Linked DNA regions of Homo sapiens: region 2 is linked to region 1. The links come from fine-mapping of genetic effects on gene expression. Tissue or cell type: gastroesophageal junction. Region 1 holds a variant in brackets; the other region holds the start of a gene. All regions are shown on one strand. Distances are from middle to middle.

The links. PIP is the estimated chance that this variant, and not a neighbour inherited with it, causes the effect.
Region 2: PGPEP1 starts here. The variant in region 1 is fine-mapped to the expression of PGPEP1 in gastroesophageal junction (GTEx, PIP 0.99).

Annotation. Positions count from the first base shown.
Region 1 is chr19:17,968,637-17,976,737 of GRCh38, forward strand. It overlaps KCNN1 (potassium calcium-activated channel subfamily N member 1), which reads left to right. Exons shown (of 10, transcript NM_001386974.1): 2 at 5,172-5,654; 3 at 6,456-6,551. The coding sequence starts at 5,253. It also overlaps the pseudogene RNA5SP468. Among named protein-coding and RNA genes, the nearest start is that of KCNN1, 5.6 kb to the left of the region's middle. The variant C/T (reference allele first, on the strand shown) is at 4,991.
Region 2 is chr19:18,337,263-18,345,362 of GRCh38, forward strand. PGPEP1 (pyroglutamyl-peptidase I) reads left to right here and starts at 3,336. Exons shown (of 5, transcript NM_017712.4): 1 at 3,336-3,453; 2 at 5,597-5,649. The coding sequence starts at 3,420. RefSeq lists a silencer at 3,185-3,374 and enhancers at 3,206-3,893, 6,673-7,512, 7,513-8,100.

The DNA.
Region 1 (8,101 bases):
AGCCCTGCTCCCTGCTACCCTCATCCTCTCCTCAAGAGCTCTCATGGGTCCCCCCAGGCACACGAGGTTCCCCCAGAAGTGTGTGTCTCCAGGGAGGGTGTGGAAGTGGGTCTCTGCTCATCCCCTGCACCCCAGGCTTCAGGGAAGGGAGCTCTCATGACCAGACAGAGTAGTAAAAGTAAGGCAATATCAAAGACCTTCCAACCCAAATACACCCCGTAGGATGTTTGTTGTTTGTTAGAGATGGGATATTGCTAGTTGTCCAGGCTGGTCTCGAGCTCCTGGGCTGAAGTGATCTCCTGCCTTGGCCTCTTGAATAGCTGGAACTAGGTATATACCTAGCTAATAGGGTGGTATTCCTCACTTGGCAAACCCAGGGCTGTTACCCAGAAAAACATACCCTTTCATGGGCATCCAAACCTTGGCTGAGGGTTCCCAGGGGCTCCTGGGTCTCTGGGAATCCCTGAGGGTCCCAGGGACTCCAGTGTTAGGCCCAGATTGCAGTGGGGGAGGGGATGTGTACCCAGGAATGGGGAAGGCCCAGGCACTCATCAGTTCTGTGCTCCAAGCTAGTGGCTTCTCGACGGCAGGACCAGGCCAGTTCCCCTCCCAGAAAGCAGACCCTGCCACCTGCCACGCCTGGATGGCACTAATTTAGTCCCTGCCTTTCCTGGCTGGGTGACCTTGGGCAAAAGGTGCTGAGCTTCTCTGAGCTCTGTCTCCCGTCTGTAAAATGGGAACGGGAATGCCACCTTGCTCACCGGTGGTGATAGGGATTAAATGTGATCACCCTGATCTCAGGCTCAAAGCATAGTAAGAGCCCGGTCCACAGTAATGTGGTGGGTGCCGGGAAAGCCCTCCACCCCTCCACCCCTCCACCCTCTTGGAAGCCACCTGCCATTTCTCTCCTCCTCCCCACCCCCTCCCTGCCCAGGGCACCTTAGGACGCGGCTGCCAGGCGAGGAGGAACATGGCAGACACACGGCTGAATTTGGCCCATGCGTCGGGTGGCTGAGTCACATCCCCAAATTGCATCTTCATTGGTGCGTTTCGGAAGGTCGTTTGCAGAGGCCATCGGAGGCCTACACCCCCTCTGGGTTCTGTCTGCCAGGCCACCCGCTTCTCATCCCTGTGCCCCCCATCCCCAGCTGGGGAAGTTTTGCACCCTCGGGGATGGTGGAAGGGGTGCCTGGGTTTTCCTGGGCCCCCTGGAGGAGGGCAGGATCTGGGGTTCCTGTGTGCACCCTAGTGCAAGCTCCCAGCCCCACCTGGTAGCCAGCGGATGTTCAGGCAGTGGGCAGGGGTTTGAGCCTCGGAGCAGAAGGCCCACCTAAGTATTTGTGAGGTTACGGAAAGATCAGGGCCAAGGTCAGCCTCATAAACTGTCAAATGCTGGGCCCACAAGGCCAGGCCTTATAGACTGTGAAGTGCTGGGCCGGCAGGAGGTCAGGCCTGATAAACTGGGAAGTACTAGGCCACATGAGGCTAGGTCTCATAAACTGGGAAGTGCTGGGCCTGCGGGAGGTCAGGCCTTACAAGCTGTGAGGTGCCTGGTCACAGGAAGCCACAGCCTGATTGATGTGATGGGTGAGGGTGGGAAGGGGTGGGACAAGTTCTGAGACTCATGAGGTCACCTGACCATAGAAGGAATGATTTTTTTTTTTTTTTTTTTTTTTTTTTTTTTTTTTTTTTTTTTTTGGAGACAGGGTCTCACTCTGTTATCCAGGCTGGAATGCAGTGGCATGATCTCAGCTCACTGCAACCTCCACTTCCCGGGTTCAAGTGATTCTTGTGCCTCAGCCTCCCAAGTAGCTGGGATGACAGGTGCCCACTACCACGCCCGGCTAATTTTGTATTTTTAGTAGAGACAGGGTTTCACTATGTTGGCCAGGCTGGTCTTGAACTCTTGACTTCAGGTGATCCACCCACCTTGGCCTCCCAGAGTGCTGGGATTACAGGTGTGAGCCACCACGCCCAGCCAGTTTTGCCATGTTGGCCAAGCTGGTCTTGAACTCCTGACCTCAAGTGATCTACCCGCCTCAGCCTCCCAAAGTGCTGGAATTACAGGCATGAGCTACCGCGCCCGGCCACAAAGAAATAATTCTTGCACTCCTGTGTGCTGACACCAGTATCTGGAGACACATCGTGAGGGACAGACACAGTGTGGGGGGTGCCGGACAAAGGCATAGGTGGTCCTGCAATGTGTGCGGCAGCCAAAGTCACCCATGTCCAACTCAGCAGTGTAGCTCATTTTTTTTTTTTTTTGAGACAGAGTCTCACTCTGTTGCCCAGGCTGGAGTGCAGTGGCGTGATCTCAGCTCACTGCAGCCTCCACCTCCCGAGTTCAAGCTATTCTCCTGCCTCAGCCTCCCAAGTAGCTGGGATTACAGGTGCCCACCACCACACCTGGCTAATTTTTGTAGTTTTAGTAGAGACAGGATTTCGCCATGTTGGCCAGGCTGGCCTCAAACTCCTGACCTCAAGTGATCTGCCCACCTCAGCCTCCCAAAGTGCTGGGATTACAGGCGTGAGCCACTGCACCCAGCCAATGTGGCTCATCTTGCTGTGTCCTGGAATGACGATCTGCTAGTCTGTCACCCCCAGTGGGGGTGGGAAGTGTCCTGCCTGTGCACACAGCTGCCCCCAACCCTTCTCCCAGGCCTGGCACATGGGGGACCCCTAGTGCATGCTGTTGTGACCATTTCAAAGGGGATAACACTTGGCCTCCACCCACCCCTGCCCAGCTTGTTGGGAAAATCTCACAAAGGAGCCGGGTCCGGAATCTTCCCTGCAAGGAGAAGGTGTGTCTTCAGGCAGGTTTGTATTATTATTATTTTTTTTTTGAGACGGAGTTTTGCTCTTGTTGCCCAGGCTGGAGTGCAATGGCATGATCTCAGCTCACTGCAACCTCCGCCTCCCGGGTTCAAGCGATTCTCCTGTCTCAACCTCCTGAGTAGGTGGGATTACAGGCATGGGCCACCACGCCCAGCTAATTTTTTGTCTTTTTAGTAGAGACGGGGTTTCACCATGTTGGTCAGGCTGGTCTCGAACTCCTGACCTCAGATGATCTGCCCACCTTGGCCTCCCAAAGTGCTGGGATTCCAGGCGTGAGCCACCGTGCCCGGCCCAGGCAGATTCTTTCACAACATCATGCCACAGTTTCCCCATCTGTAAAACTGGCCAAATCCCAGGACCCACTTCTTGGCAGTATTAGGATTCAGGAGAACATTTACATAAAGAATGGAGCCTGGGACCGGGCACAGTGGCTCATGCCTGTAATCCCAACACTTTGGGAGGACGAGGAGGAAGGATCACTGGAGCCCAGGAGTTCCAGACCAGCCTGGGCAATGTAGCAAGGCCTGATCTCTACTAGAAATAAAAATAAATCATCTATGGCCATACCACCCTGAACACTCCCGATCTCATCTGATCTCGGAAAAATAAATCATTAGCTGGGGGTGGTGGCGCATACCTGTAGTCCTTGCTGCTTGGGAGGCTGAGGTGGGAGGATCGCTTGAGCCCAGGAGTCCGAGGCTGCAGTGAGCTAGGATTGCCCCACTGCACTCCAGCCTGGGCTACAGAGCAGGCAAGGAGTGCATTTGAGGGTCTGAGATACTGGGCTGGGCAGGGCAGGGGAGAATCTGACAAGTTGGATCCAGAGTCTCAGACAGCCTCTCAATGCCTTGGTGAGCATGATGACTATGTCACCATCATTGAGGTCCCTGCTCTCACACATGATGCCACAGGACATTGCTCTGTAATCACACAGGGTGCTTTTCAAATAGCCTGGCAGGGAAACAGGCTAGCCTGAGATCATAGAGCCCAGCCAAGCATGTCTTATGTCTTACAAAGCCCTGCAGAATCGATTCTAGATCTTGGAGTTAAAGCCTGCATTGCCACACTGTTTGGAGATCATGGATCCCCTCCTGGAAACCATTTGGATTCTGTTTGGAATCTGTTTGGAGATTATGGATCCCCTCCTGCCCAGGCAGGAGGGAGCCTCAGGATCTCTGTAGCCACAGCCAGGGTCCCTAATGTCCCATAGGCCACAGTGCAGGAGCCTACAAATGCAGGAGGCACGGTGAGGTGAGGTTAACTCATCCAAGAGTCTGAAGGTTGGAAGAGGATGAGCTCAGATGAAAACCACCTTCTAAGCATACCATTAGCCACCCTCTCCTCCCAGGCAAGCCCGTTGGTAGATTTCATCTTCCAGCGTTCAGCAAGTGTTTCCTGAGTGTCATCTGTTTGCTAGGCATTGTTCTAGGTGCTTGGATACACATAAAGTCAGCAGGCAGGGCTCTGGTAGGGGGGCATTCCAGGCAGAGGGCACAGCCTGTGCAAGGTATCAGAGAAGGATGAACTTGTTGGAATCTGGTGATTGGGAGACCATTGTGGCTGGAGGAATTGGGTCTGGGGAGAGTAAGAAGGACGAGATAGGTGGGAACCAGATACAGAGGGCCCCTTGGCCATAGTGAAGAGTTTGGTGTTTTATTTGTTTTTGTTTTTGTTTTTTTTAGAGATCGGCTCTAGTTATGTTGTCCAGGCTGGATTTAAACCCCCAGACTCAAGTGATCCTCCAGTCTCAGCCTCTGAGTAGCTGTGATTACAAGTGTGCACCACTGGGCCCAGCTCTGGAGTTTCTTTGTTCTTTTTCTTTTTTTTGAGACGTAGTCTCACTCTGCCACCCAGGCTGGAGTGCAATGGCATGATCTTGGCTCACTACAGCCTCTGCTTCCTGGGTTCAAGCGATTCTTCTGCCTCAGCCTCCCACGCAGCTGGGACTACAGGCATGCACCACTACGCCTGGCTAATTTTTGTATTTTTAGTAGAGACTGGTTTTCGCCATGTTGGCCAGGCCAGTTTCGAACTCCTGAACTCAAGCGGTCCTTCTGCCTTGGCCTCCTAAGTAGCTGCAATTACCAGAGCTGCACCACCATGCCCGGCTCTCTGGGGTTGATTTTTTCAGTGAGATGGCACTGGGGAGCCATGG[C/T]AGGGCTTTGAGCAGGGGAGGGATTCAGGCTGACTCAGATGTTTCTGGGATGGTAAACCCACGTGTCAGCACTCTGGGCCACTCCCAAACTTAGAACGTTCTGGGTTGGCCGGGATGGTCCTTGCCTTTCTGGTCAGTAAGCTGGACCCTGCTGTGACCATGTCCCTCTGTGCCCTTGCAGGTCAGTGCAGGAGCCCAGCCGCTGAGCCATGCCGGGCCCCGGGCGGCCTGCAGCGAGCCCAACCCCTGCACCCAGGTAGTCATGAACAGCCACAGCTACAATGGCAGCGTGGGGCGGCCGCTGGGCAGCGGGCCGGGCGCCCTGGGACGAGACCCTCCGGACCCTGAGGCCGGCCACCCCCCACAACCCCCGCACAGCCCGGGCCTCCAGGTGGTAGTGGCCAAGAGTGAGCCAGCCCGGCCCTCACCCGGCAGCCCCCGGGGGCAGCCCCAGGACCAGGACGATGACGAGGATGATGAGGAAGATGAGGCCGGCAGGCAGAGAGCCTCGGGGAAACCCTCAAATGTGGGCCACCGCCTGGGCCACCGGCGGGCGCTCTTCGAGAAGCGGAAGCGCCTCAGCGACTATGCCCTCATTTTCGGCATGTTTGGCATCGTCGTCATGGTGACGGAGACCGAGCTGTCCTGGGGGGTGTACACCAAGGTAGGCGTGGTCCTCCCCCAGGCACTCCAGGGAGGTTCCACCAAGCCCGCCTAGCTTTCTTGACATGGGGTTGGGGGTGGCAGGGCCCCCCGGGAGATAGGGAGTGTTAGGGGGCTCCCGGAGGTGAGGGCTCCCTGGCCTTCTGCATACCCACCTCCAGGAAGGTAGCAGGGAGGCTACACATGGAGAAGGAAGGTTCCAGCCCATTCCCTGGCCAGGTGTCAAGGGGCTGCACCCTGGCTTAAGGCGGAGGGGGGCTTCCCCCCAGGACAGGGGTTCCCCAGAGTGGGCCTGCTCTGGGGAGCAACAGAAGATCTTCCTCCCCTTCCGAGAGTGAGTGCGTCCAGGTTACAAGCCTGGCTGTGGGTTCCCTCATGCCACCTAGAATGTGTGAGGATGGAGAGAGATCAGGGCTGTGTCAGCCTGTAAACTCTGAAGTGCCGAGGCTGGATGAGGTCCGGCCTTGTGAACTGTGAAGTGCTGTGCCCAAGTGAGGCCAGGCCTCATAAACTGTGAAGCACTGGACACATCTTGCTGTCAGCCCAGTCCCCAGGAATAAGGACAGGAGAGCACCGCTTCCTGAATACAGCACATGCTGCACGCCCAGCCCTGATAAGCTGTTTCACACACAGCAGCCCCAGGACTGGGGAACTAGCAGAAATTCAGGGTACAGTGGGAGAAGCCACTGGGAAGAGCCCCATTTAGCTGACTCCCATGCCCGGGAGCCAGGGTAAGGGGATGGGAGGGCCGCCGGCCCACCGCCTCCAGCGTCCATCTGGCTGTGTCCTCTCTCTTTACCAGGAGTCTCTGTACTCATTCGCACTCAAATGCCTCATCAGCCTCTCCACGGCCATCCTGCTGGGTCTCGTTGTCCTCTACCATGCCCGGGAGATCCAGGTCAGTGCTGAATACTGCAGGAAGCAGCTCCTCTCCTCAAACCCCAGATCCCCCCACACCAGCCCACCTTAGACCCCATCCCCTCAAAACATAAAAGGATGTATAATTGGCTTCTGATAGAAAAAAGATCTCCATAAAGACACACAGTTTCCATCATTCTAGATTTCCTTGAAACACACATCTGTGTTTTAATTTTCATTGATTATTTACAAAAAAGAACAGGTAGTGAGAAAGTGAGGGGCTGAGCTGGGACTCTGGGACACACGGGTTGTTTCCAGGCTGGAGTGCAGTGGTGCGATATTGGCTCGCTGCAACCTCTGCCTCCTGGGTTCAAGCGATTCTTCTGCCTCAGTCTCCCGAGTAGCTGGGATTACAGGCGCATGGCACCACACCTTGCTAATTTTTGTATTTCTAGTAGAGACGGGATTTCACCATGTTGGCCAGGCTGGTCTCGAACTCCTGACCTCCAGTGATCCACCCGTCTCAGCCTCCCAAAGTGCTAGGATTACAGGTGTCAGCCACTGCTCCTGGCCTATTTGTTTAGTTTTTGAGACAGGGTCTCACTCTGTTGCCCAGGCTGGAGTGCAGTGATGCAGTCATGGCTTTGACCTCTTGTGTTCAAGAGATTTTCCTGCCACAGCCTCCCGAGTAGCTGGGACTACAGCTGCGCACCACCACACCTGGCTAATTTTTGTATTGTCTTGTCAGTGTCTCGCCATATTGCCCAGGCTGGCCTCAAACTCGTGGGCTCAAGTGATCGGCCCACCTCACCCTCCCAAAGTGTTGGGACTTTACAGGCATGAGCCACCATGCCCGGCTGCACACGCATGTTGATAACAGCACTGTTCAAAGTAGCCAAAAATCACACCTGTGATCCCAGCACTTTGGGAGGCCAAGGCGGGTGGATCACTTGGGGTCAGGAGTTCAAGACCAGCTTGGTCAACGTGGTGAAACTCCATCTCTACAAAAATTAGCCAGGCATGATATCGGGTGCACGTAATCCCAGCTATTTGGGAGGCTGAGGCGGGAGAATCACTTGAACCTGGGAGGCAGAGGTTGCAGTGGAGCTGAGATCGAACCATTGCACTCCAGCCTGGGCAACAGAGCAAGACTCCGTCTCAAAAAAACAAAAATACAAAGTAGCCAAAAAGCAGAAACAACATCCAAATGTCCATCCAGGCATGAATGGATAAATAAAATGTAGTGCACCTGTACAATGGACAATTATTCAACCTTTTTTTTTTTTTGAGACGGAGTTTCACTGTTGTTGTCCAGGCTGGAGTGCAATGGCACGATCTCCAGCTCACCGCAACCTACGCCTCCTGGGTTCAAGCAATTCTCCTGCTTCAGCCTCCCGAGCAGCTGGGATTACAGGCATGTGCCACCACACCCAGCTAATTTTGTATTTTTAGTAGAGACGGGGTTTCTCCATGTTGGTCAGGGTGGTCTCGAACTCCCAACCTCAGGTGATCTGCCCGCCTCGGCCTCCCAAGGTGCTGGGATTACAGGTGTGAGCCACCGCGCCCAGCATAACCTTTTTTTTTTTGAGA
Region 2 (8,100 bases), 370 kb after region 1:
ACAAAGCAAGATCATATCTCAAAAAACAAAAATATGGCCCAAACATGATTAGGGCTACGAGTGAACATTAGCCTTTACGCCAGTCACTGGGGCAGTGGGGCATGACTCAGTTTCTCCCCATCACTGCTGACTCTACATGTTTTCGTTCCTCCCATTGCAATTGAGGAAACTAAAATCCACTGTCACTTCCCTCTCGCCTTCCCTCTTCTAGCAACGCACATACTCCACACCAGGCACGTATGACATATTCAGGTTATAAAACCTGCCTTTGGGTGAGTGGTTTTTTTGTTTTGTTTTGTTTTTTTCTGAGACGGAGTCTCGCTCTGTCGCTTAGGCTGGAGTGCAGTGGCACGATCTCAGCTCACTGCAACTTCCGCCTCCTGGGTTCAAGTGATTCTCCTGGCTCAGCCTCCCCAGTAGCTGGGACTACAGGCACGCGCCACCACTCACTGCTAGTTTTTTGCATTTTTAGTAGAGACAGGGTTTCACCATGTTGGCCAGGCTGGTCTCGAATTCCTGACCTCAAGTGATCCGCCTGCCTCGGCCTCCCAAAGTGCTGGGATTACAGGCGTGAGCCACTGCGCCTGGCCAGGTTAGTGTTTTGATCTGCTCTTTTCTCCCTCTTGGCTTGGACCTCATTCCCTGGCCAGCTCAGACAGCTCTCTGATGTTCTGCATTCTACCTGAAGCTGCTAAAGACCAAAATAGCCACTGAGCGTGTGACCTGGGGTGTGGGCTTCCAAACAGGGCTCAGGGGCAGTCTAGAGAACTCTGCCCTTGGTGTTGGAGGAATTCGGGGGTGGAGCCAGTAAACACCATAGTACCAGCTGGGCACGGTGGCTCATGTCTGTAATCTCAGCACTTTGGGAGGCCAAGGCAGGCAGATCACCTGATGTCAGGAGTTCAAGACCAGCCTGGCCAACATGGTGAAACCCCATCCCTACTAAAAATGCAAAAATTAGCCGGGCACGGTGGCAGGTGCTGGTAGTCCCAGCTATTCAGGAGGCTGAGGCAGGAGAATCGCTTGAACCCAGGGGCCGGAGGTTGTAGTGAGCCTAGATCGTGCTATTGCACCCCAGCCTGGGCGACAGAGTGAGACTCTGTCTCAAACAAACAAACAAAAAACCATAGTGTCTTGGCGAATGATGGCAAAGTCAAAGTGGAACGGGCTATCAGTGAACCACACAGTCAGGAGTTCTGGCTCATGCCTGTTATCCCAGCACTTTAGGAGGCTGAGGCAGGAGGATTGCTTGAGCCCAGGATTTCAAGACCAACCCAAACAGGCAACATAGCAAGACCTCGTCCCTACAAAAAATATAAAAATTAGCCGGGCATGGCAGCACGCGCCTGTAGTCCCAGCTACTCGGGAGGCTGAGGTGGAAGAATTGCTTTAGCCTTGGAGATTAAGGCTGCAGTGAGCTGTGATCGCTCCATTGCTCTCCAGCCTGGGCAAAAGAACAAGATCCTGTCTAAAAAAAAAAAAAAAAAAAAAATTCGTGACCCAAGTCCAAGGTCCAGTCCTGTTTCTGAAGATGTGGCCAGAAACTCAGCTTTCATTTTCTACCTGTTTTTAGAGGAATTCTGGTCTCTGATGAATGTTGGCAGAATGTGCCTGGGGATGTGCTGGGTGTTGAGACGCAGCTCTAACAGAACAACGCTTCCTCCTCTAGAAGTTCTCATCTCTATGTCGGAGGAAACGGGAAGCCAACCAGAGAGGCTGTGACCATACTAAATGATTTCTGCTTAATAATACCTGGGGAGGGGGCCGGAGGCAGTGGTTCACGCCTGTAATCCCAGCACTTTGGGAGCTGAAAAGGGTGGATCACCTGAAGTCAGGAGTTCGAGACCAGCCTGGCCAACATGGTGAACCTCCCTCTCTACTAAAAATACAAAATTAGCTGGGTATGGCGGCACTCGCCTGTAATCCCAGCTACTTGGGAGGCTGAGGTGGGAGAATTGCTTGAACCCGGGAGGCAGAGGTTGCAGTGAGCCAAGATCACACCACTGCACTCCAGCCTGGGTGACAAGAGTGAAACTACGTCTCAAATAAATAAATACATATATAATTTCTGCTTAATAATACCTGGGGGACTAAATAATCTGTACAACAAACCCCATGACACGAGTTTATCTATATAACAAACCTGCACATGTACCCCAAAACTTAAAAGCTAAAAAAAATTAAAAATGATTTCTGGCCAGGTGTGCTGGTTTACACCTGTAATCCCAGCACTTTTGGGAGGCCAAGGTGTGCGGATTGCTTGAGCTCGGGAGTTCGAGACCAGCCTGTGCAACACTATGAAACCCCCATCTCTACAAAAATACAAAAATTAGCTGGGTGTGGTGCCACACACCTGTAGTCCCAGCTACTCAGGAGGCTGAGATGTGAGGATCAGTTGAGCCCTGGAGGTCAAAGTTACAGAGCTATGATTTTGCCACTGCACTCCAGCCTGGGTAACAGAGTGAGACCCTGTCTCCAAAAAAAAGAGAGAGAAAGGAAATTATTTCTGAGCTTTATTGCTATGAAGAGGATGGAACCAGGGAATGAGATGGAACCACTGGGGGGTAGCAGTGAGGTCATTTCAGCCAAGGAGGGCCAGAAGGAACCCTCAGAGGAGGTAATAGGATAGCAGGGAGGTGATAGCCAGAGAAGGCCACAAGGAGAAAGTGACAGTTCACCCCTCGGAGGAGGTGACAGCCAGGACAGGAGGAGGGCCCCTGGGAGGAGGCGACATTGGAACACTGGAGCTGAGGCCTGAAGGAGGCCAGCTTCGCAGGTACCTGCGGGGTGTGTTCCGGCAGAGGGAACAGCAGGTACAATCGCCCTCCCCCATTAGCCTCCTAGGACCATGGGGGCCTGCAGAGAAACTTCTGGCACCACACAAATATGGTTGTCGTGTTTTTCCTTTTTTACTCTGTCCTCCCCCACCCCCGCCAACTTCCTGGCCTGAATGCTGCTCCTGTGACCCCTTGAGGCGAGTGACCTCGGGGAAGTGGCATTCTGTGCCTCAGTTTCCTTATCTGGAAAACGGGCCTTGCTCGCGGGGACTTCCCTCCCTAATTCTGCGCAGTATGCATGCATAGGGCAGGCCCTCAATGAACCCTTGCAGAATAAAGGACCGGCTCATCCCCAGCACCTGGCTCAGTGCGTGCAAGCGGCTACACACTACGGCATAAGATGTTCCCATTTTGCAGACGGGGAAACGGAGGCTGGGGAATACCGGGCCTAGCCGACGGGGGCGGGGCGCAGGGCGCGCACGCTGCGTCTCGGGCCCGGGGGCGCGCACGCCGAGCGGCTGACCGGGGGCGAGGCCGGGGGCTTGACAGGGGCGTGGCCTCGCGCGGCCGAGAGGCTGCAGCGGCAGCAGCTGTCGCGCCAGTCGCAACAGAAGCAGGTCCGAGGCACAGCCCGATCCCGCCATGGAGCAGCCGAGGAAGGCGGTGGTAGTGACGGGTACGCTGGCTGATGGGGGCTGTAGCGGCAGCGGCCGGGGGCAGAGGCGGGGGCGGCTCCGGGACTGCGGGGCCGAGAGGGGCAGGTGCTGGAAGTCCTCTCAGATTTGGAAGGTGTCATCACCCGCGGGAGCCCCGCGCAGCCCAGGCTTCCTGGAAAGTGGAGGAGGAGGAGCCTTGGGGGTCCCAGGGTCGGGAGTCAGGGCAGTCGGGCGCGGGGCTTGGGGGGCCGGGCAAAAGCCCGGCGCTGCGCAGGCCCCCCTGGCGTCCTTTCCTCCCAAGGTGGGGATGGTGACCCTCCTGGCACCTGCCTCCTCTGTCTGGCCTGCGGGCTGGACTGGACCCTTCCTCCCTGCCCCTTCCGAGGTCCAGCCTGTCCCCACACCGCTCCCCCAACCCCTGGCCCCAGGGGACAAAGGCCGATTTGCGGGCAGGAAGTGTCCCAGTGACAAATGAACCTCCCAGTCACTGCTCGCCGCGCCCTGCGCTCCTGGGGGGCTACTCTCCCAAGGCAGGGGCAGGTGGGGGTCCGGGGACCTCGGGCTCTCCCAGCTGTCCCAGGGACTGTCTTCAGCGGAAACCTTTTTGTGTTTTGTGCCAGGGCTGTTTGTTGGTGAGTCAGGGCCCCTGCTGTCACCGACTCCCCCCCACCCCCAAACCAACTGTTTCTCCTCCCTGAGACTCCGCCTCGGGGCCACGTGGGGCGCCAACTTCCGCTGGGGCCTCAGAGTCAAGGAGTGGGGGGGTCATTTTGACCTGCTGTCTGGAGGGGTCAGAGTGGGAAATCCAGCAAAGGTGCACACAGGTGTTTTGTGGCTGTTGAAGGGAGATTGAGGCTGATCCAGGAGATTCAGGGAAGAAGGAAGAAACAAGGCACCTGCTTAACAGGTGTGTATAATTGGGAGGAGGGTCACTGCCCCCATCCCTTCCAGCCTTCCTTTATCTGGTTATTTATTCCAGCACTTTTTGCATGAGCTGATTACATCTTTACTGTCTCCATTTTGCAGAAAGGGAAACTGAGGCTCACAGAGGTCATCCAGTTTGTAAGGGGCTGAGCTGAGACTCAAACTTTGGCTGTACAGAAGGATAGAGTTAGGAGGTCCCCTCCTGAGCCACAGCCCCTACCTGCTATCCCAGGCTACAGCATCTCTGCATAGCATTCATATCCTGTGGGATCACTGGCCCAGATGGACCGTATTTTTTTTTTTTTGAGACGGAGTTTTGCTCTTGTTGCCCAAGCTGGAGCACAACGGCGCGATCTCGGCTCACTGCAACCTTCGCCTCCTGGGTTCAAGCGATTCTCCTGCCTCAGCCTCCTGAGTAGCTGGAATTACGGGCACGCATCACCCCATCTGGTTAATTTTTTGTATTTTTAGTAGAAACGGGGTTTCACCATGTTGGCCAGGCTGGTCTCAAACTTCTGACCTCAGGTGATCCGCCCGCCTTGGCCTCCCAAAGTGCTGGAATTACAGGCATGAGCCACCGCACCCAGCCCCAGATCTGGATTTGAATCCCAGCTTTTTCACCTTCTTGCTGTGTGACCTTGGGCAGCTAGCTTCACCTCTCTGTGCCTCAGTCCCTGCTCCTGGAAACTGGGCCTAGGAAACACCCTTGCCTGAAAGGGGATGTGGCCAGGCTTAATGCCAGGAAGATCACTTAGCACAGCCTTGGGCGACTGTCGTGTTTTGGAAAGGGGGCCTGGAGTTTGAGCTAGCAGGGAGGAGGGTGACAAGGTGAAATCTAGACAGCCTGGAGGGCTCATTCCTCATTTGGTGCCGATTCAGGGCATTTTGGGACAGTGACACAATAATTGTAGGTTGAGTCAAGGGGACCAGAGGAAGTGAAGACAGGATCAGGACCTTTTCGGAGGCAGAAGATACCTCTGGCCCCTGGCTGAGCATGAGGGGCAGGTGGAGGTGAAGACAGGAAGGGACTCATTGACTTCAGAGCGGACAGGTGCAGGACGGCGGCTCTGACGGGCCTCCAGGTGCTCCCAGAACTCAGGACCAGGCCCCCAATGTTGTCCTTGGCAGCTGCGCCCTGAAGCTCCTTTCTTGCTTCTCCAGGTGGGAGTAGCGGCCAGGCCAGGGGCAGACTGGGAAGGGCCACTCTTGGGTAATATATTGCTTTTCCTGTTTTTTCAGGATTTGGCCCTTTTGGGGAACACACCGTGAACGCCAGTTGGATTGCAGTTCAGGTAACTTAGATCCGGAGGGTGGGAGTCAGGCTTGGAGCTGGGCACACCCCAGAAAGTTATGGCATCCAAGAAGGTCCCCTTTTAACAAAAACTTTTTTTTTTTTTTGAGACGAAATCTTACTCTGTCACCCAGGCTGGAATGCAATGGCACAATCTCAGCCCACTGCAACCTTCGCCTCCTGGGTTTAAGCGATTCTCCCACCTCAGCCTCCAGAGTGGCAGAGATTATAGGTGGCTGCCACCACGCCCGGCTAATTTTTGTATTTTTAGTAGAGTCGGGGTTTCACCATGTTGGCCAGGCTGGTCTCGAACTCCTGACCTCAAGTAATCCTCCTGCCTCAGCCTCTTAAAATGCTGGAATTACAGGCGTGAGCCACTACGCCCAGCCAGCTCTTAAAAAACGATGTCGGATCCACATCTCTTCCTGGATGGTAACCACCGGAGCACACATCTGTTGAGTGTTTGTACCCCAGCGCTCTGAATCCTCCCAACAACCCATGCATAGTACGTGTAGTTATTCTTGTGCCCACTTAACAGAATAGGAAACTGAGGCCCAGAGGAGGGATGAAGGGAGTTCTCCGAGGTCACACAGCCAAGAAATGGGAGTGGCATTGCCTCAGAAGTGCCCCAGGCCCTGGCCAGCGGCTACAGATCTGGGTCTGGAGGGCCAGGTGTGGATATAAACGTAGCTGGTTTCCAGGACACAGCTGTTTATGTGGTGCTGGCGTCTACTTTACCTAGGAATTATCCAACTCTAGGATCTCCCTCTTTTTTTTTTTTTTTTTTTTTTGAGACGAAATCTCACTCTGTTGCCCAGGCTGGAGTGCAGTGGCGCGATCTTGGCTCACTGCAACCTTGCCTTCTGGGTTCAAGCGATTCTCCTGCCTCAGCCTCCAGAGTAGCTGGGATTACAGGCACCTGCTACCACGCCTGGCTACTTTTTTCTATTTTTAGTAGAGATGGGGTTTCACCATGATGGCCAGACTGGTCTCAAACTCCTGACTTCAGGTGATCCACCCACCTCGGCCTCCCAAAGTGCTGGGATTACAGGTGTGAGCCACTACCCCCGGCCAGGATCTCCCTCCTTTTTAAAAATCTTTTCCATTGACTCAGACAAATCGTGACTCAGGTTGGTTTCTGAACAGCCAAAGTGAGAATTCTCTGGTATGTTTTAGGCAGGTAATTCATGGTTCAGGAAGGACCAGGCAGGAATATGTGGGGTGGGGTGGCAGGGGAACATATCTTGACCTTGTAGGAAGGGGTACAGTGAGCCTCGCTGTCATCTCCTCGCAGCTGGGGGAGGAAAAGATGGCATATTAGGGGCCGAGGGGGGCTGTCATTCCTGGTGCCCTGAAGAAGATGCCAGTCTGCAAAACCTTTCTAGTTTCTTTTCCAGATGGAGTATTTTGTAGGGACAGGCTGGGGAGCAATGCACAGAGAGAAAGACGGAAGTGTTTTCTCGTTATATAAATCAGATCGGCAGAGACCAGAGCCAAACCCCTGTTTATCCTAGCCTATGAGCTGCCTGATTTAAAGTAACCTCTGTTCCCATTCCAGAATCCTAGATTTGGAGAAAAATCTAAGTTGAAACCTCAGCGTGGCAGTCCCCAGCTGTACCCCCCATTTTTTAATCACCCCCTCATCCCCAACTTCAGACCTCAAAGTTTTGGCTGTTTCCCTTTTTTTTTTTTCTTTCCTGCCCACTTCGTGAACGGGATGGAGGGACGGGGTCCCGGGACCCTGCAGATGGGAGCGTGCCCGAGGCCCTGCCTGCTCACCCGCTCCCCGGAGAGCCAGACAAAAAGAAACAGCATGTTTCTGAAGACTTGTGTGTCAGGCTTTGTGCACATTTCAGACAGGAGCCTTCACGGGGCTGAGTGGACACAAAGCCGGGTGTCTGAATTCCTGGGCCCCAGACACTGATCTACATCTAAATAGAAGAAAAATCAATTAAACAATCTTTGGAAATCCCTCCGAGCTTCGGGGCTTCTCGGATGGTGAAGGATGGCAGCTTTTTATCTTGTGGCCAGAGAGGAAATAGCCCTTCTCCTTGGTTCTCCTCTCTCCAGACCTGCAGTTTCCACTTTTTGCTTTCTTTTTTTTCTGGAGACACAGTTTCGTTCTTGTTGCCCAGACTGGAGTGCAATGTCACGGTATCAGCTCACTTCAACTTCCGCCTCCTGGGTTCAAGCGATTCTCCTGCCTCAGCCTCCCTTAGTAGCTGGGATTACAGCTGCGCACCACCAGGCCCGGCTAATTTTTGTATTTTTAGTACAGACGAGGTTTTGCCATGTTGACCAGGCTGGTCTTGAACTCCTGACCTCAGGGGATCCGCCCGCCTCGGCCTCCCAAAGTGCTGGGATTACAGGCGTGAGTCACTGCGCCCAGCCCCACTTTTCACTTTCTTCCCAAAGTTTAGGACACAAGATTCCCCACCATTCGCCTGCCAAA